7 linked regions of the Homo sapiens genome follow. The protein of the gene in region 1 purifies or fractionates together with the protein of each later gene. This does not show direct contact. Each region holds a gene or a part of one and is shown in the gene's direction. Other genes may lie near its edges. The genes, in order: LIPH, CEP164, FAT1, LRP5, PTER, RTEL1 and LRRC41.

Region 1 (4,114 bases):
GCACTTCAGCCTGGCTGAACAAGACCCTGTCTCAAAAATTTTCCCGCCCTGTCTGTATCTGGAACTTACAGGCACATACCATTGTGCCTGGCCTAGAATCTGCATTTTTAACAATTCCTCAGGGTTTTTCAGCTGCAGGTGGTGAAACAAACATAGGTTTTAAAATATTGTTCTAAATTAAGACTGCTTGACATAAGTATTTTTAAAAGTTACTCTGCTATCGATATTTTGGCCCATAGCAACTGTAAAACTAGATAGATATTTTCCCAGAAAAAATTGTTTAATGCCAAAACCAGAATTATTTCCTCAGATATTTGCAATCCTCTAGAATGATTTGGAACTGTGCCTGTGTGGTGACTCATCTTTCTCTAACAAGTTGGCAAAGGTGAATGAGGGGGTGTGAATGTGCATATTTATGCACATGATTCAGAAATGAGAATGAGAAAATCTGGCATCTCATTTATTTTCTCGGTTGCATCCTAAAGAAACACAGCCAGTGGTTAAAAGCAGGCATGTCCTTCCAATCAAGAGGGCATCCTGCCCATATGCTTCTTGCCTGTCTCCGCCCAGGGTAAAAAAGAAACAAATATTTTCTTTTTTTTTTTTTTTGAGATGGAGTCTCGCTCTGTTGCCAGGCTGGACTGCAGTGGTGCGATCTCGGCTCACTGCAACCTCTGCCTCCCGGGTTCAAGCAATTCTCTGCCTCAGCCTCCCAAGTAGCTGGGATTACAGGCACCCACCACCACGCCCAGCTAATTTTTGTATTTTTAGGAGAGACGGAGTTTCGCCATCTTGGCCAGGCTGGTCTTGAACTCTTGACCTCGTGATCCCCCTGCCTCGGCCTCCCAAAGTGCTGTGATTACGGGTGTGAGCCACCATGCCTGGCAAAACAAATGCTTCACCAGGTTTGACCCTGTCCAACTGTAATCCTTTCACAGCCTGGCTCAGGATGCGGTTTGTTTTGTTTTGTTTTGTTTTGTTTTGTTTTGTTTTTGTTTTGTTTTGTTTCTGAGATGGAGTCTTGCTCTGTCTCGCCCAGGCTAGAGTGCAGTGGCACGATCTTGGCTCACTGTAGCCTCTGCCTCCCAGGTTCAAGTGATTCTCCTGCCTCAGCCTCCCAAGTAGCTGGGACTAAAGGCATGTGCCACCACACCCAGCTAATTTTGTATTTTTAGTGGAGATGGGGTTTCACCATATTGGCCAGGCTGGTCTCGAACTCCTGACCTCAGGTGATCCACCTACCTCGGCCTCCCAAAGTGCTAGGATTACAGGTGTGAGCCACCGTGCTTGACCTAGGATGAGTTTTTTTTTGTTGTTTTTTTTTTCCTTTTATGTGAGACAGAGTCTCGCTCTGTCACCAGGCTGGAGTGCAGTGGCGCGATCTTGGCTCATTGCAACCTCCGCCTCCCTGGTTCTAGCAATTCTCCTGCCTCAGCCTCCCAAGTAGCTGGGACTACCGGTGCCCACCACCACGCCCAGCTAATTTTTGTATTTTTAGTAGAGACAGGGTTTCACCAGGTTGGCCAGGATGGTCTCGATCTCTTGACCTGGTGATTCGCCCGCCTCGGCCTCCCAACATGCTGGGATTACAGGCTTGAGCCACTGCGCCCGGCCCCAACTCATTTTCTAATACGAGGAAGGCAAAGTTTCTGGCCTAAAAAAACTTCAGATTTTTATTTCTTGGACTTTTGGAAATTCCTTCAGAACAGTGTCTTCAGGCAAGCATAAGAGTGTGCTCAAGCATAGGTTACTGTGAACATTTTGGCATCAACGGCATCAACGTGTAATGAGCTTGTATCCCAGACAGTAACATCCATTGCCAAGCATGCAGAATACTTGAAAATGTATCTGTTAATCTTTATCTGGGTCTCAGTAAATACTTTCTTTCTTTCTTCTTCTTTTTTTTTTTTTTGGAGATGGAGTTTTGCTCTTGTTGCCCAGGCTGGAGTGCAGTGGCGCGATCTCGGCTCATTGCAACCTCTGCCTCCCAGATTCAAGCAATTCTCCTGCCTCAGCCTCCCAAGTAACTGGGGATTACAGGTGCCTGCCACCATGCCCGGCTAATTTTTTGTATTTTTAGTAGAGACGGGGTTTCGCCATGTTGGCCAGGCTGGCCAGGCTGGTCTCAAACTCCTGAACTCAGGCAATCCACCCTCCTCAGCCTCCCAAAGTTCTGGGATTACAGGCGTGAGCCACCGTGCCCTGCCTTCAGTAAATACTTTCAGGCAGCATCAAGTCAGTAAACCTGACTGTGGACCTCTGTTCTAAAGAAGTTATTAATATACATCTATGTCACGTTTGGGGATGGGGTGGAGGGGAAGAAAGCTCAAGCACACCTTAGAAACCAAAACTCGAGATAAAAAAGCAGTATGAGTCAGGGCTGTTTTACTTCCTGACTGGGCACTACACGTCAAGGTTAATTTCATGTAGGACGTGAAATTGACATGAAATTCTGTCATGTCCTACATGAATTTCACTTCTACATGTCCTACAGAATTTCACTTCTGTAATGTAGGTTTGGAGGTCAGTGGACCAAAGGGTCCAAGGCACCTTCATCAAGGTCTGAGATGGGTCTGAGATACCTTCTTTTTTTTTTTTTTGAGACGGAGTCTTTCTGTCACCCAGGCTGGAGTGCAGTGGTGTGATCTCGGCTCACTGCAACCTCCGCCTCCCGGGTTCAAACAATTCCCACCTTTGCTTATTGACTATCGTAGAATCTCAGAATTTCCTCGCCTCTGTCCATAATTCTGTCTTCTTTTTTCACAGATGCCTCTTTGGATATGAATGAGGAGTCTCCTCTCTTTGAAGAGGGTTTTCTCCAGTCAGAAATATGGGAAATAAAATTAATTCCTCCAAAATGAGGTAGAAGAAGCCAGAGCTGAGTGTGTAGCTGAGACAGCACAGGCTTTTTTTGTTTTGTTTTTTGTTTGTTTTTAGACAAGTTCTTACTCTGTTGCCCAGGCTGGAGTGCAGTAGTGTGATCGCAGCTCACAGCTCACTGCAGCCTTGATTTCCTGGGTGCAAGCCACCTTCTGCCACAGGCTCAGTGTAGCTGGGACCACCAGCATGTGCAACCACGCCCAGCTAACTTTTTGATTTTTTCTAGAGACAGGGTCTCACCTTATTGTTCCAGGCGGGTCTCGAACTCTTGGGCTCAAGTGATCCTCCTACCTTGGCCTCCAAAAGTGTTGGGATTACAGGCGTGAGCCACAGCACCCAGTGGGAAATTTTTTTTTTTTTTAAAGAGATGGGTGTTGCCATATTGCCCAGGCAGGCTTTGAACCCTGGACTCAAGTGGTTTTCCTGCCTCAGCCTCCCAAGTAGCTGGGACTATATAGGCCTGCACCACCATGCCCAGCTTTAGAATTTTTTTTTTTTTTTTTTTTGAGACGGAGTCTTACTCTGTCGTCCAGGCTAAGAGTGCAGTGGCACAATCCTGGCCCACCACAACTGCCACCTGCTGGGTTCGAGCGATTCTCCTGCCTCAGCCTCCCGAGTAGCTGGGATTACAGGTGTGCGCTACCACACCCGGCTAATTTTTGTATTTTTATTTATTTTTATTTATTTATTTTTGAGACAGAGTCTCACTCTGTCACCCAGCCTGGAGTGCAGTGGCTGGGTCTCGACTCACTGCAAACTCTGCCTCCTGGGTTCAAGAAATCCTCCTGCCTCAGCCTCCCAAGTAGCTGGGATTACAGGCATGTGCCACCACACCCAGCTAATTTTTTTTTTTTTTTGTATTTTTAGTAGAGATGGGGTTTCACCATGTAGGCCAGGCTGGTCTCAAACTCCTGACCTCAGGTGATCTGCCTGCGTCAGCCTCCCAAAGTGCTGGGATTACAGGCGTAAGCCACTGTGCCTGGCCTATTATGATTATTTTACAGATGCAAAGCTGAGGCCCAGAGAGGTTAGGCAATTAATTACCAGGGGTCACATAGCTAATAGGCAGTGGAGTTGGACATCAAACCTAGGTCTGACTCCAAAACTCATGCTGTTTCCAAAGACGTGTTTTTTTGTTTTTTTGTTTTATGGAGATGGGATCTCACTATGTTGCCCAGGGTGGTCTCCCACTCCTCACGTCAAGGGACCCTCCCAAAGTGCTGGGATTACAGGT
Region 2 (4,114 bases), on another chromosome or scaffold:
CGGTGACTCACGCCTGTAATCTCAGCACTTTGGGAGGCCAAGGCGGGCGGATCACCTGAGGTCAGGAGTTCGAGACTTGGCCAACATGGTGAAACCCCATCTCTACTAAAAATACAAAAATTAGCCGGGCGTGGTGGCAGGCGCCTGTAATCCTAGCTACTCGTGAGGCTGAGGCAGGAGCATCATTTGAACCTGGGAGGCAGAGGCTGCAGTGAGCAGAGATCGTGCCATTGCACCCCAGCCTGGGTGACAAGAATGATACTCTGTCTCAAAAAAAAAGCAAAGAAAAAGTGATTACTTAATGTCTGAATGGCCTTAACTTATATTGCCTGGTGCTGGATATGTCCTTTGGAGCAAGGTAGAATAAACCCTTTTAAATAGGTGAATAGCAGTCATAATAATGTAATGTCTAACATTTATTGAGACCTTAGTATATTTTAAGCACTTTACATGTATTGAATCATATAAGCCTCACAACACATTGTGATGGATATTGTTAGTACTCTCATTTTATAGATGAGAAAACTGAGGCTGTCCAGCTAGTAAGAGGCAGAGCTGGGATTGAAAGCCAAGAATGTTCCAAAGCTTTTGCTCATTACCACTGCGTAATCAACTCTGACATCTTCCACCTTCTCCCCTTTACCTTCTCCAGTCAATCTTTTCTGTGGTCAACCTTCTTTGTAATTGTTGGAGCAGGGTGGAAGAAATAAATATACAGAGAACCCTCATTATGTCTGTGAGTGTATATTCTCTGTTAGTGTGCAGATGTGCAAAACTCTAGCTATGCTGACAAAGTACAGGGCAAGGTAGCCACAATATTGAAGGACTGGGAAACGATATGTACTGAATGGAAGAGAACTGGGAATACTTAGCCTACCTTAGCTAGAGAATCCTAGGGTGTCCCCAGATGAGCAGAAGGCAGACTTGAGATACCAGGGAACATTTTTTTAGAACCTGATTATTGGCTTACTATTAGACCTTCTAATAGTTAAGAATTATCTAACTATGGAATTGAAAATAGAATCTGTAATACTAGCTAAATTTGTGTAACTTTTCTGTATACAGGGACTGTGCTAGGCACTTTATAAGTGTTGTTTCATTTTACTTTCAGGCTTTTTGATTTTTGTTAAGATTGTTTTAATTATACACATGCAGTTATTGAGGCTGAGAGAGGTGAAGCACCTTGCCTAAGGTCATACAGCTGCTAAGTGAGAGAGCTGGGATTTGAATCCAGGTCTTCTGTCTCCAAAGCTGGTACTTTGACCACTATGCCGCCTGTCACTGGAAGCACAGAGAGGAAAATTTTGGCATGGGAAGGAAGGTGGACCAAAACTACTGCGGGTCTTCCTAGCTTCTGAGATTGCTGGTGTATTTTTTTTTTTTTTCAGATAGGGTCTCACTCTGTTGCCCAGGCTGGAGTATGGTGGTACAATCATAGCTCACTGCAGCCTCGAACTCCTGGTCTCAAGTGATCCTCCCACCTCTGCCTCCCCACTTTACACTCTTTATGTAACTCTGTCTTCCTTTCCATCTGATCACATAGCTCCTGCCTCAGCCTTCCGAGTAGCTGGGACCACAGGTGCACGCCACCATGCCTGGCTAATATATATATATATATATATATTTGTGGAGACAGGGTCTTACTATATTGCTCAGGCTGGTCTTGAGCTTCTAGGCTCAAGTGATCCTAGGCCTTGGTCCCCCATAGTATTGGGATTACCGGTGTGAGCCACAACACCCGGCCTATTCCTTGGTTTTATATTAGCAGTTACAGCAGTAACTGAGCTCCGACAGCTTACATAGGCTTATTTTAGGCTTTGTTGGAAAATTCCAGAGGAGGAGACATGGCCCTCAGAAGTTTGTGGTTTAACAGGAGAGGTAAGAAGACACATTTTCATAAAAAAAGTAATATTGGCCAGGCACGGTGGCTCACGCCTGTAATCCCAGCACTTTGGGAGGCCGAGGCGGGTGGATCACCTGAGGATAGGAGGTCGAGACCAGCCTGACCAACATGGAGAAACTGCATCTCCACTAAAAAAATACAGAATTAGCCAGGCGTGGTGGCACATACCTGTAATCCCAGCTACTCAGGAGGCTGAGGCAGGAGAATCGCTTGAACCCAGGAGGCGGAGGTTGCAGTGAGCCGAGATCGCACCATTGCACTCCAGCCTGGGCAACAAGAGCGAAACTCCTCTGTCTCAAAAAGAAAGAAAGAAAAAATAATAATATTGAGAGAAATCTGTCTGGGAACACATGAAAATTATGAGCTCAGTGCTAAGGTGGTTCTGGGTTGACAGGAGAGGATAAAATTGGCTGGGAAGGCTTCCTGGAGGAAACGTGTGAGCCACTCCTTTTTTGCCTGATTCTGAGATTGGTAGGAGATGCATGAGTGCAGTTGGGTGACCCCTCCTAACTCTGGCTCACAGAAGGTCTCAGGCTAGGCAGCAAGTAGATCTCACTGGATTTCATCTCATCTATTGGTAACTGCTACGTAGTGAACAATGTTGAGGGTTCTGAGGCCATGTCTAGGGTGCCATAATTGACTAGTGATGTCCTTCACAGTTTTAGGCCTGGAGGAAAATAGTAGGACATGTCCTATTTGTTTGCCATGGCAGATCTAAGGGCTGCATTCTCATTTATTGATTTATTTTAGAGACAGGTCTTGCCCTGTCACCCAGGCTGGAGTGCAGTGGTGTTATCATAGCTCACTGTAGCCTTGAACTCCTGGGCTCAAGGGATCCTCCCACCTGAGCCCCCCAAGTAGCTGGGACTACAGGTGTGTGTCACCATGCATGGCTGATATTTTTAATTTTTTGTAGAGACGGTCTCACTATGTTGACCCAGCTAGTCTCAAACTCCTGGCTTCAAGTGATCCTCCTGCTTTAGCCTCCCAAAGCCCTGTTATTACAGGTGTGAGCCACAGTGCTTGGCCCAAGGGCTGCATTCTTAGACTTCTCATCCTCTGTTACCACTCCAACTCAGGTTACCATTGCCTCTTACCTAGCCTAGCTCATGGTTTTCTACCTTATTTCTCTGCATCAGCCCTGATTTTCTTCTTTCCAATCTGGCCTCCGCTTTAGGGTGTACTCCTAGTAGCTTCTGGAGTAGTTTTTCAAAATGTGTATCTGGAAAAACTATTTCCTGGCTTCCATTCCTCTCTCTTTTTTGAGACAGGGTCTTGCTCTGTCACTGAGCCTGGAGTGTGGTGGCACAATCAAGGCTCACTGCAGCCTTGACCACCTGGGCTCAAGTGATCCTCCCGCCTCAGTCTCCCCTGTAGCTGGGACTACAGGTATACACCACCATACCTGGCTAATTTTTAATTTTTTTTGTACAGGGTAAGACAGGGTCGTCTTATGTTGCTCACGGTGGTCTTGAACTCCTGGGCTCAAGCGATCCTCCTGCTTTGGCCTCCCAAAGTGCTGAGATTGCAGGTGTGAGCCACTGTGCCCAGCCCTAGTTCTGTTATGATAAAGGGCAAGTCTGCATGGCCTGGCTCCCACTGGCCTCCCCAGCATCCTATCCAACTGTGCTGCTTCTTGCCTCGTGTTGCCTTCTGCTGAAGGACTTTTGCATGCATCTGTTAGAACACGCTTTCCTTTTTTTCTTTGTCTAGTGAATACCTACTCATCATTCAGTTCTCAGTGTAGGCATCATCTAAATCAGGCTTATTTCCTTCAGAGCACTTCCCTCGGTTCTAATTATACATTTCTCTGTGACTGATTGGTTTGTCTCCCTCCCTTCCCAGACGAGCTCAAGAGTAGCAGCAGCTGAATCTGTTTTTAATCACGATTGCATCTCTAGCGCCTAGAAATAAATGCACGTGGTAGGTGCCCAATAAATATTCCTCGAGTGAGTAGATGATCTTTAGTAGCCATCCTGCTACTACATACAGACAAATAGATATGACTTCTGTTCCCACGTTCCTTTTTTCTTTAACTCATTGGCCTTTTGGACCTGTCCTTGCCCACATCTTTTCTAGAGCCTGATAAGGTAAGGAAAGAAGGTAGAATACAACCCACCCATATTTTAATTTTTTTCTGGCAGAACATTTATTTGAATTTGGATGATCCATGAATTCAGATTTCCCAGAGTTTTCCTGATCTTTAAGTAG
Region 3 (4,114 bases), on another chromosome or scaffold:
CATCAGGCTGCTGAATTCTGGTTTTTCTTTTGTAAATTGCCTTTCTTTGGGGCTTATGTTGCTGATAAGTATTATACTTGATATAATTATTTTAATACTTTTAAGTAGTTACATAGAGCGAAATGAGACAATAAACCCTTACATTATGTAGGGAGTGAACTTAACCATTCTTATACAGAAATAATATAATTTCAGGATACATTTTGAAATGAGATTACAAGCTGTTCTTATGGAGCGCCATGTAAAACCACTGCTGGTTTTTGTTTTTTTCTGAATTAGTTGTCAGAAGCTTTGCATTCTCACAATACTGTAGGGGCATTATGTTTGCCAGCTTTTGATCATTTAATTCATTGTATGTAAGTAAATGTAAACAATGTTCATTAATTTTTAACAGTTGCTTATATTTGCCTTAACGATTTAAATATAAAAATATAACTTAGTTGTTACAGTTAGTAGCCTTTCATTTGATACTCATGAAGATTTTTGAGTCGTTTAAATATGAAAGAGAGGACCTTGTCGTTCAAAAATGAAAAGGAAGTTTTTGTTAAGCTTAATAATTCTAGACATGTTACAAGAATGTTGATACTTATATTGGAAAACATGAAAAACATCCCAAACCGTTGCATTTATTTATATTCCATGTGTATGGAAAATATTTTTTTAATGAGAAGTTTAAAACAATGTACACACTTTTGCTTGTTTTATTTCCCCAAGGTAACGATTCTGATTTCTTCTGTTTCAGATTCCCGACAGTTAAGCAATGGGGAGACATTTGGCTTTGCTCCTGCTTCTGCTCCTTCTCTTCCAACATTTTGGAGACAGTGATGGCAGCCAACGACTTGAACAGACTCCTCTGCAGTTTACACACCTCGAGTACAACGTCACCGTGCAGGAGAACTCTGCAGCTAAGACTTATGTGGGGCATCCTGTCAAGATGGGTGTTTACATTACACATCCAGCGTGGGAAGTAAGGTACAAAATTGTTTCCGGAGACAGTGAAAACCTGTTCAAAGCTGAAGAGTACATTCTCGGAGACTTTTGCTTTCTAAGAATAAGGACCAAAGGAGGAAATACAGCTATTCTTAATAGAGAAGTGAAGGATCACTACACATTGATAGTGAAAGCACTTGAAAAAAATACTAATGTGGAGGCGCGAACAAAGGTCAGGGTGCAGGTGCTGGATACAAATGACTTGAGACCGTTATTCTCACCCACCTCATACAGCGTTTCTTTACCTGAAAACACAGCTATAAGGACCAGTATCGCAAGAGTCAGCGCCACGGATGCAGACATAGGAACCAACGGGGAATTTTACTACAGTTTTAAAGATCGAACAGATATGTTTGCTATTCACCCAACCAGTGGTGTGATAGTGTTAACTGGTAGACTTGATTACCTAGAGACCAAGCTCTATGAGATGGAAATCCTCGCTGCGGACCGTGGCATGAAGTTGTATGGGAGCAGTGGCATCAGCAGCATGGCCAAGCTAACGGTGCACATCGAACAGGCCAATGAATGTGCTCCGGTGATAACAGCAGTGACATTGTCACCATCAGAACTGGACAGGGACCCAGCATATGCAATTGTGACAGTGGATGACTGCGATCAGGGTGCCAATGGTGACATAGCATCTTTAAGCATCGTGGCAGGTGACCTTCTCCAGCAGTTTAGAACAGTGAGGTCCTTTCCAGGGAGTAAGGAGTATAAAGTCAAAGCCATCGGTGGCATTGATTGGGACAGTCATCCTTTCGGCTACAATCTCACACTACAGGCTAAAGATAAAGGAACTCCGCCCCAGTTCTCTTCTGTTAAAGTCATTCACGTGACTTCTCCACAGTTCAAAGCCGGGCCAGTCAAGTTTGAAAAGGATGTTTACAGAGCAGAAATAAGTGAATTTGCTCCTCCCAACACACCTGTGGTCATGGTAAAGGCCATTCCTGCTTATTCCCATTTGAGGTATGTTTTTAAAAGTACACCTGGAAAAGCTAAATTCAGTTTAAATTACAACACTGGTCTCATTTCTATTTTAGAACCAGTTAAAAGACAGCAGGCAGCCCATTTTGAACTTGAAGTAACAACAAGTGACAGAAAAGCGTCCACCAAGGTCTTGGTGAAAGTCTTAGGTGCAAATAGCAATCCCCCTGAATTTACCCAGACAGCGTACAAAGCTGCTTTTGATGAGAACGTGCCCATTGGTACTACTGTCATGAGCCTGAGTGCCGTAGACCCTGATGAGGGTGAGAACGGGTACGTGACATACAGTATCGCAAATTTAAATCATGTGCCGTTTGCGATTGACCATTTCACTGGTGCCGTGAGTACGTCAGAAAACCTGGACTACGAACTGATGCCTCGGGTTTATACTCTGAGGATTCGTGCATCAGACTGGGGCTTGCCGTACCGCCGGGAAGTCGAAGTCCTTGCTACAATTACTCTCAATAACTTGAATGACAACACACCTTTGTTTGAGAAAATAAATTGTGAAGGGACAATTCCCAGAGATCTAGGCGTGGGAGAGCAAATAACCACTGTTTCTGCTATTGATGCAGATGAACTTCAGTTGGTACAGTATCAGATTGAAGCTGGAAATGAACTGGATTTCTTTAGTTTAAACCCCAACTCGGGGGTATTGTCATTAAAGCGATCGCTAATGGATGGCTTAGGTGCAAAGGTGTCTTTCCACAGTCTGAGAATCACAGCTACAGATGGAGAAAATTTTGCCACACCATTATATATCAACATAACAGTGGCTGCCAGTCACAAGCTGGTAAACTTGCAGTGTGAAGAGACTGGTGTTGCCAAAATGCTGGCAGAGAAGCTCCTGCAGGCAAATAAATTACACAACCAGGGAGAGGTGGAGGATATTTTCTTCGATTCTCACTCTGTCAATGCTCACATACCGCAGTTTAGAAGCACTCTTCCGACTGGTATTCAGGTAAAGGAAAACCAGCCTGTGGGTTCCAGTGTAATTTTCATGAACTCCACTGACCTTGACACTGGCTTCAATGGAAAACTGGTCTATGCTGTTTCTGGAGGAAATGAGGATAGTTGCTTCATGATTGATATGGAAACAGGAATGCTGAAAATTTTATCTCCTCTTGACCGTGAAACAACAGACAAATACACCCTGAATATTACCGTCTATGACCTTGGGATACCCCAGAAGGCTGCGTGGCGTCTTCTACATGTCGTGGTTGTCGATGCCAATGATAATCCACCCGAGTTTTTACAGGAGAGCTATTTTGTGGAAGTGAGTGAAGACAAGGAGGTACATAGTGAAATCATCCAGGTTGAAGCCACAGATAAAGACCTGGGGCCCAACGGACACGTGACGTACTCAATTGTTACAGACACAGACACATTTTCAATTGACAGCGTGACGGGTGTTGTTAACATCGCACGCCCTCTGGATCGAGAGCTGCAGCATGAGCACTCCTTAAAGATTGAGGCCAGGGACCAAGCCAGAGAAGAGCCTCAGCTGTTCTCCACTGTCGTTGTGAAAGTATCACTAGAAGATGTTAATGACAACCCACCTACATTTATTCCACCTAATTATCGTGTGAAAGTCCGAGAGGATCTTCCAGAAGGAACCGTCATCATGTGGTTAGAAGCCCACGATCCTGATTTAGGTCAGTCTGGTCAGGTGAGATACAGCCTTCTGGACCACGGAGAAGGAAACTTCGATGTGGATAAACTCAGTGGAGCAGTTAGGATCGTCCAGCAGTTGGACTTTGAGAAGAAGCAAGTGTATAATCTCACTGTGAGGGCCAAAGACAAGGGAAAGCCAGTTTCTCTGTCTTCTACTTGCTATGTTGAAGTTGAGGTGGTTGATGTGAATGAGAACCTGCACCCACCCGTGTTTTCCAGCTTTGTGGAAAAGGGGACAGTGAAAGAAGATGCACCTGTTGGTTCATTGGTAATGACGGTGTCGGCTCATGATGAGGACGCCAGAAGAGATGGGGAGATCCGATACTCCATTAGAGATGGCTCTGGCGTTGGTGTTTTCAAAATAGGTGAAGAGACAGGTAAATATGTTTTTATTGCTCTCATTTGATGCCCTTTTCCATTTTTTTTTTTTTTTTAACCATCTGCCCTGTGGCAGCTTCTTCAAAAT
Region 4 (4,114 bases), on another chromosome or scaffold:
GACAGTTCAGTGGCATTCAGTCAGTTCACGAGGTAACCATCACTGCCATTCATCTCCAGACTACTTCACCTTCTCGGCAGATGTCCGAAACTGTCCGCATTGAACACACTCCTCATCTCCCTCTGACAGCCACCATTCTACTTTGTATCTCTCTCTGCCTTCTCTAGGTACCTCATGTAAGTGGAATTATACCAATATTTGCCCTTGTGTGACTGGCTTCTTTCATGTGACATGGTGTCCTCAAGGTTCATCTGTGTTATAGCCTGTGTCAGAATTTCCTTCCTTAAAGCCTGAATAATAACCCGTTGTAAAGGCTGGGCGCGGTGGCTCACACCCTCTAATCCCAGCATTTTGGGAGTCCGAGGTGGGCAGATCACTTGAGGTCAGGAGTTTGAGACCAGCCTGGCCAACATAGTGAAACCCTGGCTCTACTAAAAGTACAAAATTAGCTGGGTGTGGTGGCGCGCACCTGTAATCCCAGTTACTCAGGAGGCTGAGGCAGGAGAATCGCTTGTACCCGGGAGGCAGAGGTTGCAGTGAACCAAGATTGTGCCTCTGCAGTCCAGCCTGGGTAACAGAGTGAGACTTCCTGTCTCAAAAAAAAAAAAAATCATCGGATGGATGGACGGACCACTTCTTGTTATTTATCCATCCACGGGTGCTAGGTTTCTTCCACCTTTGGTTGTCGTGAATAAGGCCACTATGAACATTTCCTTCCGTGGTGAAGGTTTTGTACTAGTGAGGAAAAGGCGTGTTTGTGGTGTTGCATAGGATTCTGGTAAGAAAGTTTGCACTAACCATAAGTATTTGTACTACATTAAAATGAAAGCTCAGGGGCCGGGCGCGGTGGCTCACGCCTGTAATCCCAGCACTTTGGGAGGCCAGGGCGGGCGGATCATGAGGTCAGGAGATCAAGACCATCCTGGCCAACATGGTGAAACCCCGTCTCTACTAAAAATACCAAAAAACTAGCCAGGTGTGGTGGCGGGCACCTGTAGTCCCAGCTACTTGGGAGGCTGAGGCAGGAGAATGGCGTGAACCCGGGAGGCGGAGCTTGCGGTGAGCCGAGATCGCTTCACTGCACTCGAGCCTGGGCAACAGAGCAAGACTCCGTCTCACGCAAAACTCTGTCTCACGCAAGACTCCGTCTCAAAAAAAAAAAGAGTTCAGGGTTTATGAAACTGGCCAGCCGCGTAAAGTTTGCTGTGTTGTTTTTGTGCCCGGGAGGAGTGTGGCCAGGGTGTCACGTCACACAGTACACGTTTCTCAGATGGTGGTTCTCCAGACTGCTGTCCCAAAGTCTGTTTTTGCATCTGGTTCCCACAGACCCACCCTCCACGGTGAGCCTGATTTTGGCCAGGGTAGCTGGAATCTTGCTTGTCTTTCAGCCCGGCAGCTGTACCAGTCCAGGGTCCACAGCTAGTGGCTTTTAGGAAGGAATTTGTTCAGTTGGCTTTGACACATGGCCCCCTAGGGTCCACAGCTCTGTAGTGATGTGGATGTTGTTATCTACAAAGACACATGATCCTTCGTGTCCAGATGAAAGTGATGATGTCTTTGCAGCTGCCCAGCAAGGCTGTGTGTGTGTGTGTGTGTGTGTGTGTGTGTGTGTGTGGTGTGTGTGTGGTGTGTGTGTGTGTATGGGGGAGGGAGGCACCCTTTCCATCTGGGGGTGTGTGTGTGTGGGGTGTGTGTGTGTGTGTGCGCGTGTGTGTGGTGTGTGGTGTGTGTGTGTGTATGGGGGAGGCACCCTTTCCATCTGGGTCCAAGAGACTGGGCCTGGGGAAGACGCTTCTTTTTATCTACTTAGAGACTTTGTTTTATTTGTATTTTTTTGAGACAGGGTCTCACTCTGTCACCCAGGCTGGGGTATGGTGATATGAGCATAGCTCACTGCAGCCTCGGCCTCCCAGGCTGAAGCGATCCTCCCACCTCAGCCTTCTGAATAGCTGGGACTGTAGGCGTGCGTCACCATACTGAGCTATTGTTTTTTTTGTTTGGTTGGTTTAATTTTTTTTGATACAGATGGAGTCTTGCTATGTTGCCCAGACTAGTCTCAAACTCCTGAACTCAAGTGATTCTCCCACCTCAGTTTCCCGACATTCTGGGATCACAGGTGTGAGCCACTGCTGTCTCCCTGTTTTATTAACTGCTGAAAGACCTAGATAAAGAAAGTCTGAAAAGACTTACTATCAGAGCACCATCCTAAGATGATTCCCTCTGACTCAATGGAGAGGGAGGGGAGCTTTTCCTTCAGGCCTGGGTGGCAGGAGCCCAGGTGCTCCAGGCCCCATTTGCCCCAGGCCAAATCACTCGGGAACTTGGATGCAGCTGTCTTTCAGGGTAACCCAAAGGAACCAGATCCCCGCAGGCAGTAGGCTTCTGGGCTGTCCTCTCCTCCTACGTCAGCTCAGTAAGAGCCCTTCGAAGGGATGCTGTGTCGGAGGCCCCAAAAGCCCAGGCTCATCCCTGAGATGCACAGGGTGGGCTGGGCTTAGGCAGCGCTCGAGCATCTCCTGGACGGTGACCCCAGAGAGTGTGGAGACGGAGAGTCCTTGAGAGTCACTGAGAGACGTGGCTGCCCTGCCTTCCCAAGAGGGGCTCTGAGTCATTCCCCACACTCACCTGCCCCTACCCACCCTCACCTGGCCCCCAGCCTCACCTACCCCCACATCTGTACCGATCCCTTTACCCGCACCTTCCCTACCCACCCTCACCTCCCCTGTACCTTCACCTCCCCCACTCACCCGCCCCTGCACCCTCACCTGTCCCCCACCTTCACCTAACCCCCACCCTCACCTGCCCTCCCCTCACCTGGCCTCCTTCCGTTGGGGAAGGGGTTGTAAGGGGCGGCCCCCAAACTGTCTGTCCTGGTGCCCTGCAGAGAAAACAGTACGTGAGGGCCGCAGTCCAAAAGCTTGAGTCCTGGAAGGTGGAGGAGACAGGGATGTGTTGGGAAGGGCCCCATGGTCTTGGATCCCTTCTCGACTGTCAATGGGGCCTTCATGGGAGCGCCAGTCTAGTGATGCACAGCTGGGTGCCCGGCGGGTGGCTGAGGAGGCCTAAAGTCCGAGGCGGCAAGAGCTCTTCCAGAGGCTGTTGTCCTAATCGCTCTGGCATACTCAGGCGGGCACGTAGTTAGGAGCTGATTGGAGAGGAGAGACCCCCACACCAATACTGGGATTTGACTTTCAGGCTAAACTTGAGAAGTGTGGCCTCTGCTGTCCTGCCAGAGCTCTCCAGCCAGTGCCCAGGGCTCTCCAGCCAGTGCCCGGGGGTCTCCACCAGTGCCCGGGGGTCTCCGCCAGTGCCAGGGGTCTCCGCCAGTGCCCAGGGGTCTCCGCCAGTGCTCAGGAGTCTTGGTTTCTTTGTCTTACAGCCCTTTGTTTTGACCTCTCTGAGCCAAGGCCAAAACCCAGACAGGCAGCCCCACGACCTCAGCATCGACATCTACAGCCGGACACTGTTCTGGACGTGCGAGGCCACCAATACCATCAACGTCCACAGGCTGAGCGGGGAAGCCATGGGGGTGGTGCTGCGTGGGGACCGCGACAAGCCCAGGGCCATCGTCGTCAACGCGGAGCGAGGGTAGGAGGCCAACGGGTGGGTGGGGGTGCTGCCCGTCCAGGCGTGCCCGCCGTGTCTTCTGCCGAATGCCAGCCTCTCACAGGCTGGGGAGACTTTCCACCCTGGGGATCCAATGGGTGGCTTTCCAGGGTCCCAAAAGCAAACACAGGCTCTTTCACAGCCCCTCCAGGAAAGCAGAAAGCCCCAAGGGCTGGAAGGGAAGGGGGAGCTCTGCTGAGAGGTTACAAGGCAGCGCTGGCCGACGGGAGTTGCAGTTGATAGGTTTTGTATCATCCTTGTTAAACTTGAACCCTGTGCAGAAATCCCTTCCACGGCATGGGGGCTGCCTGTTGACTCGCTCCTGTTCCACCACAGGGAGCTCCTGGGCTTCTTCCTCCCAGAGGCCCCCGACGCTCCCACCTGTTGGTCGTCAGAGCTTCTGGTTGGTGGGAAGGCACCCAGGACCTTGAGGTCTCCAGAGAGAAAAGCCAGGGAAAGAGGGAGACCGAAACCCATGTGACATGAAACTCAGGCTCCAAACTGAGCA
Region 5 (4,114 bases), on another chromosome or scaffold:
ATAGCTCAGAATGAAAGTCAGTAGTCAACTCCCAGGAATCTCACAGGAAAGGAGAAACTTCCCGCACCCGTGGCACAGGGAGGCTTAATTGGTTCTCCTGTGGTTTATAAGAAAAGCTTTGATCAGGTGCGGTGGCTCACACCTGTAATCCCAGGACTTTGGGAGGCTGAAACAGGTGGATCACCTGAGGTCAGGAGTTCAAGACCAGCCTGGCCAACATGGCAAAACCCCGTCTTTACTAAAAATACAACAATTAGCCGGGAGCAGTGGCACACACCTGTAGTCCCAGCTACTCGGGAGGCTGAAGCAAGAGAATCACTTGAACCCGAGAGGTGGAGGTTGCATTGAGCCGAGATCACGCCACTGCACTCCAGCCTGGGCGACAGAGGGAGACTCTGTCTCAAAAAAAAAAAAAAAAAAAAAATCTCTGAAAATACTTCTGACCTCTTAGAAGTAGATTCATGGACACATGATAGTGCTTTTTTTTTTTTTTTTTTTTTTTTTTTGTATTTTTAGTAGAGATGGGTTTTCACCATGTTGGCCAGGCTGGTCTCAAACTCCTAGCCTCAAATGATCCACCCACCTTGTCCTCTCAAAGTGCTAGGATTACAGACGTGAGCCACCACACCCAGCCACATATTAGTGCTTTTTGTTTTTTGAGATGGAGTCTTGCTCTGTCACCCAGGCTGGAATGCAATGGCACGATCTCAGCTCACTGCAACCTCCACTTCCTGGTTTCAAGTGATTCTCATGCCTCAGCCTCCCGAGTAGCTGGGATTACAGGTGCCTGCCACCACCCCCAGCTAATTTTTGTTTTGTTTTTGTTTTTGTCTTTTGAGACAGAGTCTCACTCTGTTGCCCAGGCTGGAGTGCAATAGTGTGATCTCAGCTCACTGCAACCTCCGTCTCCCAGGTTCAAGCAATTCTCTTGCCTCAGCCTCCCAAGTAGCTGGGATTACAGGCACCCACCACTATGCCCAGCTAATTTTTCGTATTTTTAGTAGAGATGGGGTTTCGCCATGTTGGCCAAGCTGGTCTTGAACTCCTGACCTCAGGTGATCCACCCACCTCAGCCTCCCAAAGTGCTGGGATTACAGGTGTGAGCCACCACACCCAGCCATTTTTGTATTTTTAGTAGAGACGTGGTTTCACTATGTTGGCTAGACTGGTCTGGAACACCTGACCTCAAGTGATTCACCCACCTCGGCCTCACAAACTGCTGGGATTGAGCCACCGCACCCTGCCACAAAGTAGTGCTTTAATCCTCACATCGTGGAGTTGCCAAAGTAATAGAAATATCAGCATGGATAAAAAGCCAATAAGACAATGACTGTCTAATGTTCCCAACTCATCTCCACGCCAATTTCCGATCCGAAACGATCCCTTACATTTCTCTAGGTCCTTCATTCCTTTCATGCAATGTCTAATGGGGTATATTTTTCCTTCATTCCCTTCATGCAATGTCTTCCTTCCCTTCATGAAATGTCTAATGGGGTATATTTTTCCTTCACTTTTTTTTTCCCATATTGTTTTCTGCTAGGATGTTTTTATTCCTTCTTAGCTCTCTGTGTGATTGGATCTCTACAGTGGTATTTTGGGGTTACCTTAGTGCATCTCTTTTTACTTGTTATAATGCAAATTTCTTGATATAATCTACTCTTGCTCTGTACTCTACGCTTGTCTGTAGCCTGTACTTGTCTTACATTTCTCTCCTTTCCCTTTCATTTACATAATCTTACATCCTAAAATAGTTACATTCTTTATATGACATCTATTGAAATGAGAAGATATCCATAAAATTTATCATAAAATAATAAATTTTATTTAAAAAATAAGCACTCCAGAGCATAAATATCTGTATGAGTATTGTGCCTTCAAGAAAATGTGGGAATGATATTCTTTAAAGGCTTTAGAATTAATTTTAGAACCACTTTACAATCTTCACAAGAAAATCACCCTGCTACCACAAGGCAAAGCCTCATGTGTTACCCAGATTAGCATTACTCACCTAATTCACCAGACCTGAGGCCAGATTTCCTTTAATAGTTTTCACAGTTCATAGCAGTCTTTAGAGGATGAAAATTTACCCCATTAAGGATTCTCAAAATAGTGTGGGGGCATCTTCTGAACACAGTTCTGAGGGAGAATTCCAAACTTGCTCTGGAATAATGGAAGCATCATTAAACTAAGTCTGTAGTACCCAAGTACTTTAGAGGGGAAAACTCCTTTTTAGATGAGTAAGTTCTGTTATTTCTAGTAACAAATTGAACTTACTGTTTTATACTCACATCATTAAGAGCCATTTCAGAAGTGTCTGTTACTCGACTTCAACTATGTTCTTGTTCTTGTACATTGTGTGCTTAAAACTTCTAGTATGTACATGTGGAAAATGGGCTCTTCATAATAACAGTTCATCTGTCGCATTGTTTCTAGGACTATTCTTGATAAGAAAGAGCTCTTGGAGTTTGCTCAACTTGGCTGCTACTTGGAATATGATCTCTTTGGTACTGAACTACTTCATTACCAACTCGGCCCAGATATTGACATGCCTGATGATAACAAAAGAATTAGAAGGTAAATATGGTAAAGCCTCTCATAGCATTCCCTTTCCCTAGCCCTTTTTGATTGTCATATCTAGGGAAGTATTAGCAAAGATTCAGAAAACAGTAAGCAGGCCGAACCACAGACTTGCAGAGAAAAATATATCTATGCTGTTTCAGGGAGAAAAATCTCTCTATATTATTTTAAGGAGAAAATGAGTCATCCTAAGTAGGCTAAAGCTTAGCAGAGCCTTAGAAGTTCAGTGCAGATGGGCAGCTGACAGGAAACACAGATAATACCCAACCCCTGCCATGAAAATCAGAGAACAAAAGACATTTTCCTCTATTTACCCCTAATGAAATAAGCTGTTCCTCTCTCAGGTTGACCACACTAAAGCCATAACTTCCTACAAGTAATATTTGAAATGCTTTATCAAAAGTTTTCATTAAAAAGGTGATTTCAAGTTAAATGCTAAAAGTATAAGGTCTAAAGACTAAATATTATGTAAAATGAATGCAACCTTCCAAAACTGTATAATGTGTGATGCTGGCAGATAATTGTAGGAGTCATTCTTTGTAATCAAGTAGAAAATTTTAGGCGTCAATGATAGCTACCTAGTTTGGTCTTGGTCACATGGTGATAAGAAGATTGAATGAACCAAGTTAGAATACCTAGGAGGAGAAATAAATTGGAGATTGACAAGGAAGGCTTTCGTTTGGGAATATCTAAGTGTTGCTACCCAGTGAAGCCCTAAGATATGGTTTGTATGTGATAGTTGAACCGTGGGAATGAATGACATCACTCAGAGAAGAAGATGAGGACAGAGACCTGGGGACAGAGACATTTAAGGAATGGAGTAGGAACCGTTTCTCAAGGAAAGGTCGAGGAGAAGTTTTCAAAGTGATAACATGAGAGATATATATTCTTATGGAAGTCAGTAGAGAGGAAGTCTCAGGGCAGAAGGGCTTGAATGCCGGTAATAAGTGACAAATATCAAGGGAAATAAAGACTGAAAAGCATCCATTGGATTTCACAATTAGGAGGCTCACATTTTATAAACAGAGTGCAATCTCAGTGGAAAAGGCTTGAGAAATGGGTGGGCCGTGAGGAAGAGGAGAGAGGATGTTGAGGTGACTCTTTCAAGAAGCGTGGCAGTGGAGGGAAGCAAGGAGATGGGTCTGGAGTTACAAGTCAATAAAGGATCAAGGGAAGCTTCTAGTAAGAGTTGAGCAATGTTTATGTGACTTAAGAGCAAAAGCAGAGACAGAGCCAGAGAGAATGAGTCCAGGGAAGTGGTGCCCATTCCACAGGGTTACTATAGAATTGACATGAAATAATGTTTTCCAAGTTTTTGTCTGAGTGTCTGGTGCAGAATATGGAAGTGTTCAATAGATGTTGACTTTAAAAACTCTGGATAGATAAGAAATATAGAGCAAGGTTCCTAAGGCAACAAATAGATGGAATCTGGGGAACAAATAGAAAGTCGGTTGAAAGGATGCTTTCTCCATGGAAATGAGAGGGCATGACACAGCGATGGGGTGAATGCAAACAGAAGTCTTAGTGAGGGAAACAG
Region 6 (4,114 bases), on another chromosome or scaffold:
GTGTATGCGGCTGATGCTGCAGAAAGTCGGGTGGCCTCAGGCTCCTGACGGGGCTGCACTTCCTCTGCCTTTCAGATTGTGTTCAGTGTGGACCCCTCCGAGGGCAGCCCTGGTTCCCCAGCAGGGCTGGGGGCCTTACAGTCCTATAAGGTAGGGGCCACCTCCAGGAGGCAGGTGGAGGGCAGCCCTTGTTCCCCGGCAGGGCTGGGGGCCTTACAGTCCTATAAGGTGGGGGCCACCTCCAGGAGGCAGGTGGGGCTGGGGGTCTTCTGGTCCTAAAAGGTAAGGGGCTGCCCCCAGGACATGGGCGGGGCCTCCACACTCCTGGTCCTGTCCCCTCCAGGTGCACATCCATCCTGATGCTGGTCACCGGAGGACGGCTCAGCGGTCTGATGCCTGGAGCACCACTGCAGCCAGAAAGCGAGGTACAGACCTGGGCCCACACGCTCCCCGCCCGCCCGGGTGCAGTGCCCGGCACCACCATGCCACAGGCTAGGCACATGCCCAGCCGTGGATCTCCTGCCCCCATGGGCCTGGCCACCTTCTCCATATCCAGGCCAATCCAGAGCATTCTCCTCACTGTCCCTCTGAAGATTGGAGTTACTGAGAGACGTAGGAGATGGCCTGATGGCACCGTGACCTGCCCAGAGTCACCTGGTTGGTGGTGGCAGAGCCACAGCCCAGCCAGGCCTCCCTGCTGGGACACGCTCGTTTATGCCGAGGCCGTCAGCACAGAGCCTCCACAGTGAGGCACGGCTCTGCCTGCTGCCTCCACGCAGCGCCTGGCCGGGCCAAGCCTCAGGGTCACATCTGAAGGGGGCCCGGCTGGCCCTGTTGTCCGAAGCCCCTGGTGCGCTCAGCCCCGAGGCCCCACGTGCCTTCTTGGCTTCCTGTGCTCCGTGGCGTCTTCGAGTCGGTGCTGCCGGGGACGCTGTGTGGATGGGGTCTGTGAGTGTGCCCTCGGCTCCGTGTCCGGAGCCCTGTGGTTCTTGGGGTGTATCTGGCCCCACCCCCACTGCGTGGTGTCCAGGGTGGGGCTTCACGGCTGCAGCTGCGGGAGCTGCTGCCCCTGCCTTGTGCTCCAGTGGGGCCTTGCCTCTGGGCTTGGTTCGTCCCTCTCTGGAACATTCTTTCTCAGCTGCTGTCCGACCCATGGTGGCATGACGTGGCCCTGGCTGAAGCAGCCCTTGTGCGGTTGCTGTGGTTGGGTCTGCCTGGCCGAGCCGGAAGGGAAGGGCTGGGAGGGCGTCAGGGTGGCGTGGCTTGACCCCCGCTCGGTGATGGTCCTGCAGCAAGGCCTCTCCCAGCAGGAAGCGTCCATCCCGGGGGGAGGCCGGCGCCCCTCACGCAGTTGGGGTTGCGGGAGGCAGTGCGTGCCTGAGGCAGCCGGTGCACAGATTCCAAGGGCCTGGAATCTGTTTGTTCCATTGACCTCTGATGTCACTTGACTTCTCAGAAGCAGCCACTCCCTGCACTGGGCGTTTGTAGGAAATGAGCTCCTGGAGGAGGGGGTGGGGAAGTTCCCCCATTGCAGGGCACACTCAGCCCCAGGAAGGAAACGTGCCTCGTCCCTGCTGACTCCGAATCGCAGTCAGAGTCGTTCTGCTTGTGCCGTGTTGAATTCCCGGCATCCGGCATCCAGACTCAGCCTCCTCCCCAGGCCACGGCCGCCGTGGCCAGTCGGTCAAGCCCTTCTAGGAACTTCCTTTGAGCTGGCGCCCTTGTTCACTGCTGACGCCACTCAGAGGCTTGTGCACGTGTCCTGCTTCCAGGCAGAGCTGGGAACTCGCACCCCGTCTTCTGCACGCGGCCGTGGAATGTCGGGATGCCGGCGCTTCCTTCCCGTGTGCTCTTGGCGGGGTGGGCTTCTTGCCCTGAGCCGCATGTCACAGTTTCTGCAGAAGTTTAGGGTTGGAGTGGGCTGACCTCTCTGCAGGTGTCCCCAGCCTCTGCCTGGGGTCTGCCTCCTACTCCCAGGACCCCCTGTCCCCCAGAGGGGCCCCAAGCTGGCAGGCTCACACTCAGGGCAGCCTCCTTTGTTCTGACTTCTGCACAGTGGGCCTGGGTGGCTGCCCGCGGCTCGCTTGCTTGATGCCAGTGGGTGGAGAGGGTGATGGGCAGAGAGGCAGGTGGTCAGGCCCCCAGTCCCGTCCTCACACTCTGTGCCCTCTGCCGCCCCCCGCCCCACAGGGAAGGTGCTGAGCTACTGGTGCTTCAGTCCCGGCCACAGCATGCACGAGCTGGTCCGCCAGGGCGTCCGCTCCCTCATCCTTACCAGCGGCACGCTGGCCCCGGTGTCCTCCTTTGCTCTGGAGATGCAGATGTACGGGCCACCCCTGCCAGGGCCTGAGCACCGGTGACACCTCTGACATCAGCGGGGTGGAAGTGGTGGGGGTCCCCATGAGCCGGGTGCTGGGGGTCTCGGGCCTCGAGGGCTAAAGGGGTGCTGGTGCACTTCCCCACTGTCTGCTCCCTCTGGCCACGCTCAGCCCTTTCCCAGTCTGCCTGGAGAACCCACACATCATCGACAAGCACCAGATCTGGGTGGGGGTCGTCCCCAGAGGCCCCGATGGAGCCCAGTTGAGCTCCGCGTTTGACAGACGGTGAGGGCCTGTCCCTGGGCCCTGCTGGGGTGGGAGGTGGGGGAGCACTGAGGCCTGAGGTCCTGAGCAGTGGCCTCTCCGGCTCTAGGTTTTCCGAGGAGTGCTTATCCTCCCTGGGGAAGGCTCTGGGTGAGTGCCCTGAATGCCCCAGCTGTGCCCATCCTGGATCCTGGACCCCTGCTCCCAAGAGCTGGTAGGGAACCCTGCAGACATCCTGCCCCTGCCTTGACCCCGGCCCCTGCACTTCCAGGCAACATCGCCCGCGTGGTGCCCTATGGGCTCCTGATCTTCTTCCCTTCCTATCCTGTCATGGAGAAGAGCCTGGAGTTCTGGCGGGTGCGTCTCCCCTGTGTTCTGGGCGGGGTGGGTGAGGGCAGGGCTGGAGCATGAAGCAGGCAGTGGTCACAGCTCCTGCTTGCCCTCATCGGATCGGCGGCGTGACCAGGGCTGCCGTGTCCCTGCCTCTTCCTCCCACAGGCCCGCGACTTGGCCAGGAAGATGGAGGCGCTGAAGCCGCTGTTTGTGGAGCCCAGGAGCAAAGGCAGCTTCTCCGAGGTCGGCACTTGGCCGGGGCTCTGGGCCTGCTGCCCCCTCGTGCCTCCCCTGCCTCTCACAGCTTCCCCAAGGCTGACCACTGGCCCTGACCATGGGCTCCGGCGGCTCCCGCTGCCTCTTCAGGGCTCCTGCGTTTCCTTCCTGGCCCTGAGTGTTGCCTCTTATCTTACAAAGCCCCCAGCACCGGGTGGGTGTGGTAACAGTGGCCCTCCTGTCTGAGTAGCCCTAGTCGGCCACCCTGGCCCTGGGGTTCCCCGTGTTTTCTGGGAAGCACTGAGCAGGCGTGGGGTCAGCCTGGGATCCGTGCCAGGAAGAAGCTTCCAGAACCCGATTGGCCTTCCTGGCTAGGACGATCCTTCATCTTGGAGCATGAGACCTGGGTCTCCCTCATGGGGGAGGAAGGGGCTGGGGGGGGGCTCCAGGCTCAGCCTCACCAACTTTCCTTCCAGACCATCAGTGCTTACTATGCAAGGGTTGCCGCCCCTGGGTCCACCGGCGCCACCTTCCTGGCGGTCTGCCGGGGCAAGGTGAGCTCTCCAGGGCCCTCTGCCCTGACCTGGTTGCCTGTTCCCTGGTGGGTGCTTATGGCTCCCCAGCAGACTCTGGGCCCTGGGGGCTGCCCGGTCCCCTCCTTGGGTCCCACGAGAGCGACTGCTGGCCCTGCTGGGAGCGTGTCCTGCTCTGGGCCTGGGCAGGCAGGATGGGAGTTTCCTGGCCACAAGAGTTGGAGGTGGCGTCTGGGAGCTGTGGACCCCAAGTGGGGTCCTGACCCACAGATGGAGCTTCCTCCCACCCCTGGTTGGGGACGGAGCCTCGGGGAAGGTGGCTGGGCTGGGTGTGGGCACCAGGGAGAGGAGCCCCCACGGCCCCAGGCAGCTCCCTGGTGTGTCCCCTAGGCCAGCGAGGGGCTGGACTTCTCAGACACGAATGGCCGTGGTGTGATTGTCACGGGCCTC
Region 7 (4,114 bases), on another chromosome or scaffold:
TCAATATGATGAAACATACAAAAATTAGCCAGGTGTGGTGGCGGGCGCCTGTAATCCCAGCTTCTCTGGAGGCTGAGGCACGAGAATCACTTGAACCTGGGAGGCAGAGGTTGCAGTGAGCTGAGATCACACCACTGCACTCCAGCCTAGGCTACAAAGTGAGACTCTATCTTAAAAAGAAAAAAAAAATTGGGATAAGGTTCTAGAAACAAACATGGAAGAACTTACAGGGGTGAGTGTTTCAGTGGAGACACTATAATAAAAGCATGGTCTCTGGAACCAGATTTCCAGGGTTCAAATAATCCAACCACTTACCTGTGTGGCCACCTCTTTGTGCCTCGGTTTTACCTGTAAAATAGGGCTAATAATAATACATACCTCAGAGATGTGAAGATTAAATGAATTTGTAGTGTTGCCTGACTCAGTAAATAGTGTGCTATTGGAAGAGAGGGAAATTTGGACAGTTTCATGGATATATCATGGCTGTCTGGCATGTTTTCTGCGTTTCAGAGTGTGACATGTTGGCGAGCCAAGTTTATGGAGGCCTTTTTTTCCCATGTTCTACGTGGGACCATTGATGTGTCTTCTGACAGGCGTCTTTGTGATCAGCGGTTCTCACCTCTTCTGCACAGCTCCCGCCATGTCCGACAGCTCACCATCTGTAACATGCTGCAGGGTGCAACCGAGCTGGTGGCTGAGCCCAACCGCAGGGTTCTGGAGACCCTGGCCAGCTCCCTGCACACTCTCAAGTTCCGCCACCTGCTGTTCTCTGATGTGGCTGCTCAGCAGTCACTTCGGCAGCTGTTGCATCAGCTCATTCACCATGGGGCTGTCAGTCAAGTGTCGCTATACTCCTGGCCTGTGCCTGAGTCAGCCCTTTTCATCCTTATTCTCACCATGAGTGCTGGCTTCTGGCAACCAGGGCCTGGTGGCCCACCCTGCCGCCTCTGTGGAGAGGCCTCCCGAGGCCGGGCCCCATCCCGAGATGAAGGGTCCCTCTTATTGGGCTCACGTCGGCCCCGCCGGGATGCTGCTGAGCGATGTGCTGCAGCCCTGATGGCCAGCCGGCGTAAGAGTGAAGCCAAGCAGATGCCCAGAGCTGCACCTGCCACTCGGGTAACACGCCGGAGCACACAGGAGAGCCTGACAGCAGGCGGAACAGACCTTAAGAGGGAGCTGCACCCCCCAGCCACCTCCCATGAGGCTCCTGGCACCAAGCGGTCACCTTCTGCTCCAGCAGCCACCTCCTCTGCCTCTTCTTCTACATCCTCATACAAACGGGCACCAGCTAGCTCAGCCCCACAGCCTAAGCCCCTAAAGCGTTTCAAGCGAGCTGCAGGGAAGAAGGGTGCTCGCACCCGTCAGGGGCCTGGTGCAGAGTCTGAAGACCTGTATGACTTCGTTTTTATTGTGGCTGGCGAGAAGGAGGATGGCGAAGAGATGGAGATTGGGGAAGTGGCTTGTGGAGCTTTGGATGGATCAGATCCCAGCTGCCTGGGGCTTCCAGCACTGGAAGCTTCACAAAGATTCCGCAGCATCTCCACCTTGGAGCTATTCACAGTTCCACTCTCCACAGAGGCAGCCCTGACACTATGCCACCTGCTGAGCTCCTGGGTGTCACTGGAGAGCCTCACACTCTCCTACAATGGTGAGCACCCTGGAGTGGCAGGGATTGGGCTTAGATTGCCTAGCAGCACCAGCTGTGTGCCTAATTCTAGGGAGGTGGGAGGGGCAAATTGGGGGTATGATCAGGAGGTTAGAGAGGAAGGCTTGTATGCCTCATAGCAGGGGAGACTGTCATTGCTAGAAGAGAGGAACATAAAGTCTATACACTTGATTAGTTGTTGAAAGCAGGGGTTCCTGAGGGGCAGTGAGACAAGCCAGCTGGAATCTGAAGAATGAATACATTTTAGATATGGAAGGCAGTCCAAGGGCAGGTGGGAGCAGTATAGTATATGCATGCTCAGGCAGGGCTAGAGTTTGACCTCACCACCTCACCAGTCATATCAGAGTAGCTGTCCAGACAAGGTGTGGGACACAATTTCTTATCAGACCAACAACCTGCAAAGCAGTCCTCAGTCCTCATTTCCCTCCTGCTTGTGACCAGCTAGCAAAACCTCAACTCTGGCTAAATCCAGCAATCCGCCTAGGTTGCTGAGCACTGCTAGAGACAAATCATACAACTATGCAAATCAGTGTTACTATATGATCACTAACCTCGTATGAACCTTCACTGTGCTTGCAACATCAGCTCCCATTCCTACCACTTCCAAACTCTCCTTTTCCCTTCTCAGGGATGACCTCACCTACTTCACAGAGAAAATAGAAGCCATCACACATGAGTTTCTTTAGCTTGCTAAGCAGCCTATAAACTCTCCATCTGCACTCATCCTTCTTTACCAGAATAGAAGAGACCACCATCCTTTCTAAGGCTAATTCTCCCACCTGTGCTCTAGATGCATAGAGCTTCACAACAAAGTATATAAAAATTACCAGTTTGAGAAACAAGCATTCTACCTTCTTAGGGAAGCTTGTTTCTCAAACTAATTTTTATATACTGCTTAGTATGTGTCTGGCATATTTTAAGTATTCTTGATAATTTGATCTAACAATCCTCACAACCCTATGAGGGCAAGTGACTTCCTCAGGATAACCTAGCAATTATAGAGCTAGGATTCAAAACCCAGGCAACCAGACTGCAGATTCATGCTTTCAAACAACTATGCTACTCTCCTTTCCACCGTCTCTCTCCTATCAGCATTTTAACAGGTCTCCATCAAAAACTGCCACCACCACCTCCCTCTATGCCATATTAATAAACTGTTATCTCCTGTTCTTCACAACCTTAGTTATCTGTACTGTTTCCACTTCTCTTACTCACAGCCCCTTCCAGCCTCTTATACCCCTACCACTGCACTGGCAAGGACCTATGTCATCAGGGTCCTCCTTGTTACTAGATCCAATGTATACTTTTCAGTAACTCTTCTTGGCAGGATTTACTGCTGTTCATTAAATTTTTTTTCACTACCTTAAAAAATGTTTTCTTGGCCGGGCGCAGTGGCTCACGCCCGTAATCCCAGCACTTTGGGAGGTCAAGGTGGGTGGATCACGAGGTCAGGAGTTCAAGACCAGCCTGGCCAAGATGGTGAAACCCCATCTCTACTAAAAATACAAAAATTAGCCAGGCGTGATGGTGGGCGCCTGTAATCCCAGCTACTCAGTGACTGGAGATCGTGCCACTGCACTACTGCACTTTAACCTGGGCAACAGAGTGAGACTCCATCTCAAAAAAAAAAAAAAAGTTTTCTCCTCCTCTGTTTATTCAGAGTTCCTCAGAGCTTTCCCACTTTATGCACGCTTCTTGGACAATTTCATCCATTCCTGTGGTTTCAAAGGCCAACTATGCTAAAGACTCCCCATTATGTGACATTACCCCAGATCTTTCTCTTGAACTTCCAGACCCATTTATCCAGCTAGTAGACATGACAACTTCATAACCCACAATACCCCACCCAACTCATTACATCCAACTTGAATGCATTTTTATATTTTTAGTAAGGACAGGGTTTCCCCATATAGGCCGGGCTGGTCTCGAACTCTTGGCCTCAAGTGATCCACCAACCTCGGCCTCCTACAGTGCTGAGATTATAGTCATGAGCCATTAAGCCCAGCCCTATCTTTACAATTTGTTAAATACATTTATTTCTCTATCTCCACATCCTTAATTCAAGCTACCATTACCCACTACCTGAACTAATTTCAGTAGTTCCTCCGGACTCCTTACTCTTGCCATACAAATCCATTATCTGCACTGCAGCCCAAGCATCCTTTGAAAAATGCAGTCTTGATTCTTTAAAAAAATCAGTCAAAAATGACCCTGTCATTCATTTATGCAAACACCCTTCAATGGCTTAATTTTACTTAGTGGTCATTCATATTCTTACTCCTGGTTATCTCTATAGTTGTATCTTTTTTTTTTTTTTTTTTGACAGGGAGTCTCTGTTGTCACCCAGGCTGGAGTGCAATGGTGCAATCTTGGCTTACTGCAACCTCCGCCTCTCGGGTCCAAGCAATTCTACTGACTCAGTAGCTGGGATTACAGGCACATGCCACC

What was found.
Region 2: the proteins of LIPH (region 1) and CEP164 purify together in Homo sapiens (affinity purification with mass spectrometry; 3 studies listed by BioGRID and IntAct, with this or other methods). This does not show direct contact.
Region 3: the proteins of LIPH (region 1) and FAT1 purify together in Homo sapiens (affinity purification with mass spectrometry; 2 studies listed by BioGRID and IntAct, with this or other methods). This does not show direct contact.
Region 4: the proteins of LIPH (region 1) and LRP5 purify together in Homo sapiens (affinity purification with mass spectrometry; 3 studies listed by BioGRID and IntAct, with this or other methods). This does not show direct contact.
Region 5: the proteins of LIPH (region 1) and PTER purify together in Homo sapiens (affinity purification with mass spectrometry; 3 studies listed by BioGRID and IntAct, with this or other methods). This does not show direct contact.
Region 6: the proteins of LIPH (region 1) and RTEL1 purify together in Homo sapiens (affinity purification with mass spectrometry; 3 studies listed by BioGRID and IntAct, with this or other methods). This does not show direct contact.
Region 7: the proteins of LIPH (region 1) and LRRC41 purify together in Homo sapiens (affinity purification with mass spectrometry; 3 studies listed by BioGRID and IntAct, with this or other methods). This does not show direct contact.

Annotation. Positions count from the first base shown.
Region 1 is NC_000003.12:185,545,625-185,549,738, reverse strand, and holds part of LIPH (lipase member H isoform 1 precursor), read left to right. Parts: intron 1-4,114.
Region 2 is NC_000011.10:117,330,380-117,334,493, forward strand, and holds part of CEP164 (centrosomal protein of 164 kDa), read left to right. Parts: intron 1-4,114. UniProt on the Homo sapiens protein: Plays a role in microtubule organization and/or maintenance for the formation of primary cilia (PC), a microtubule-based structure that protrudes from the surface of epithelial cells. Plays a critical role in G2/M checkpoint and nuclear divisions.
Region 3 is NC_000004.12:186,706,474-186,710,587, reverse strand, and holds part of FAT1 (protocadherin Fat 1 isoform 1 precursor), read left to right. Parts: intron 1-742; 5' UTR 743-760; coding exon 761-4,025; intron 4,026-4,114.
Region 4 is NC_000011.10:68,420,110-68,424,223, forward strand, and holds part of LRP5 (low-density lipoprotein receptor-related protein 5 isoform 1 precursor), read left to right. Parts: intron 1-3,379; coding exon 3,380-3,588; intron 3,589-4,114. UniProt on the Homo sapiens protein: Acts as a coreceptor with members of the frizzled family of seven-transmembrane spanning receptors to transduce signal by Wnt proteins.
Region 5 is NC_000010.11:16,502,587-16,506,700, forward strand, and holds part of PTER (N-acetyltaurine hydrolase), read left to right. Parts: intron 1-2,433; coding exon 2,434-2,574; intron 2,575-4,114. UniProt on the Homo sapiens protein: N-acetyltaurine hydrolase that regulates feeding by catalyzing the hydrolysis of N-acetyltaurine into taurine and acetate. N-acetyltaurine has anorexigenic and anti-obesity effects that are dependent on GFRAL receptor and GDF15.
Region 6 is NC_000020.11:63,685,448-63,689,561, forward strand, and holds part of RTEL1 (regulator of telomere elongation helicase 1), read left to right. Parts: intron 1-75; coding exon 76-150; intron 151-343; coding exon 344-425; intron 426-2,190; coding exon 2,191-2,323; intron 2,324-2,489; coding exon 2,490-2,603; intron 2,604-2,691; coding exon 2,692-2,732; intron 2,733-2,853; coding exon 2,854-2,939; intron 2,940-3,080; coding exon 3,081-3,158; intron 3,159-3,607; coding exon 3,608-3,685; intron 3,686-4,054; coding exon 4,055-4,114. UniProt on the Homo sapiens protein: A probable ATP-dependent DNA helicase implicated in telomere-length regulation, DNA repair and the maintenance of genomic stability. Acts as an anti-recombinase to counteract toxic recombination and limit crossover during meiosis.
Region 7 is NC_000001.11:46,282,896-46,287,009, reverse strand, and holds part of LRRC41 (leucine-rich repeat-containing protein 41), read left to right. Parts: intron 1-510; coding exon 511-1,648; intron 1,649-4,114. UniProt on the Homo sapiens protein: Probable substrate recognition component of an ECS (Elongin BC-CUL2/5-SOCS-box protein) E3 ubiquitin ligase complex which mediates the ubiquitination and subsequent proteasomal degradation of target proteins.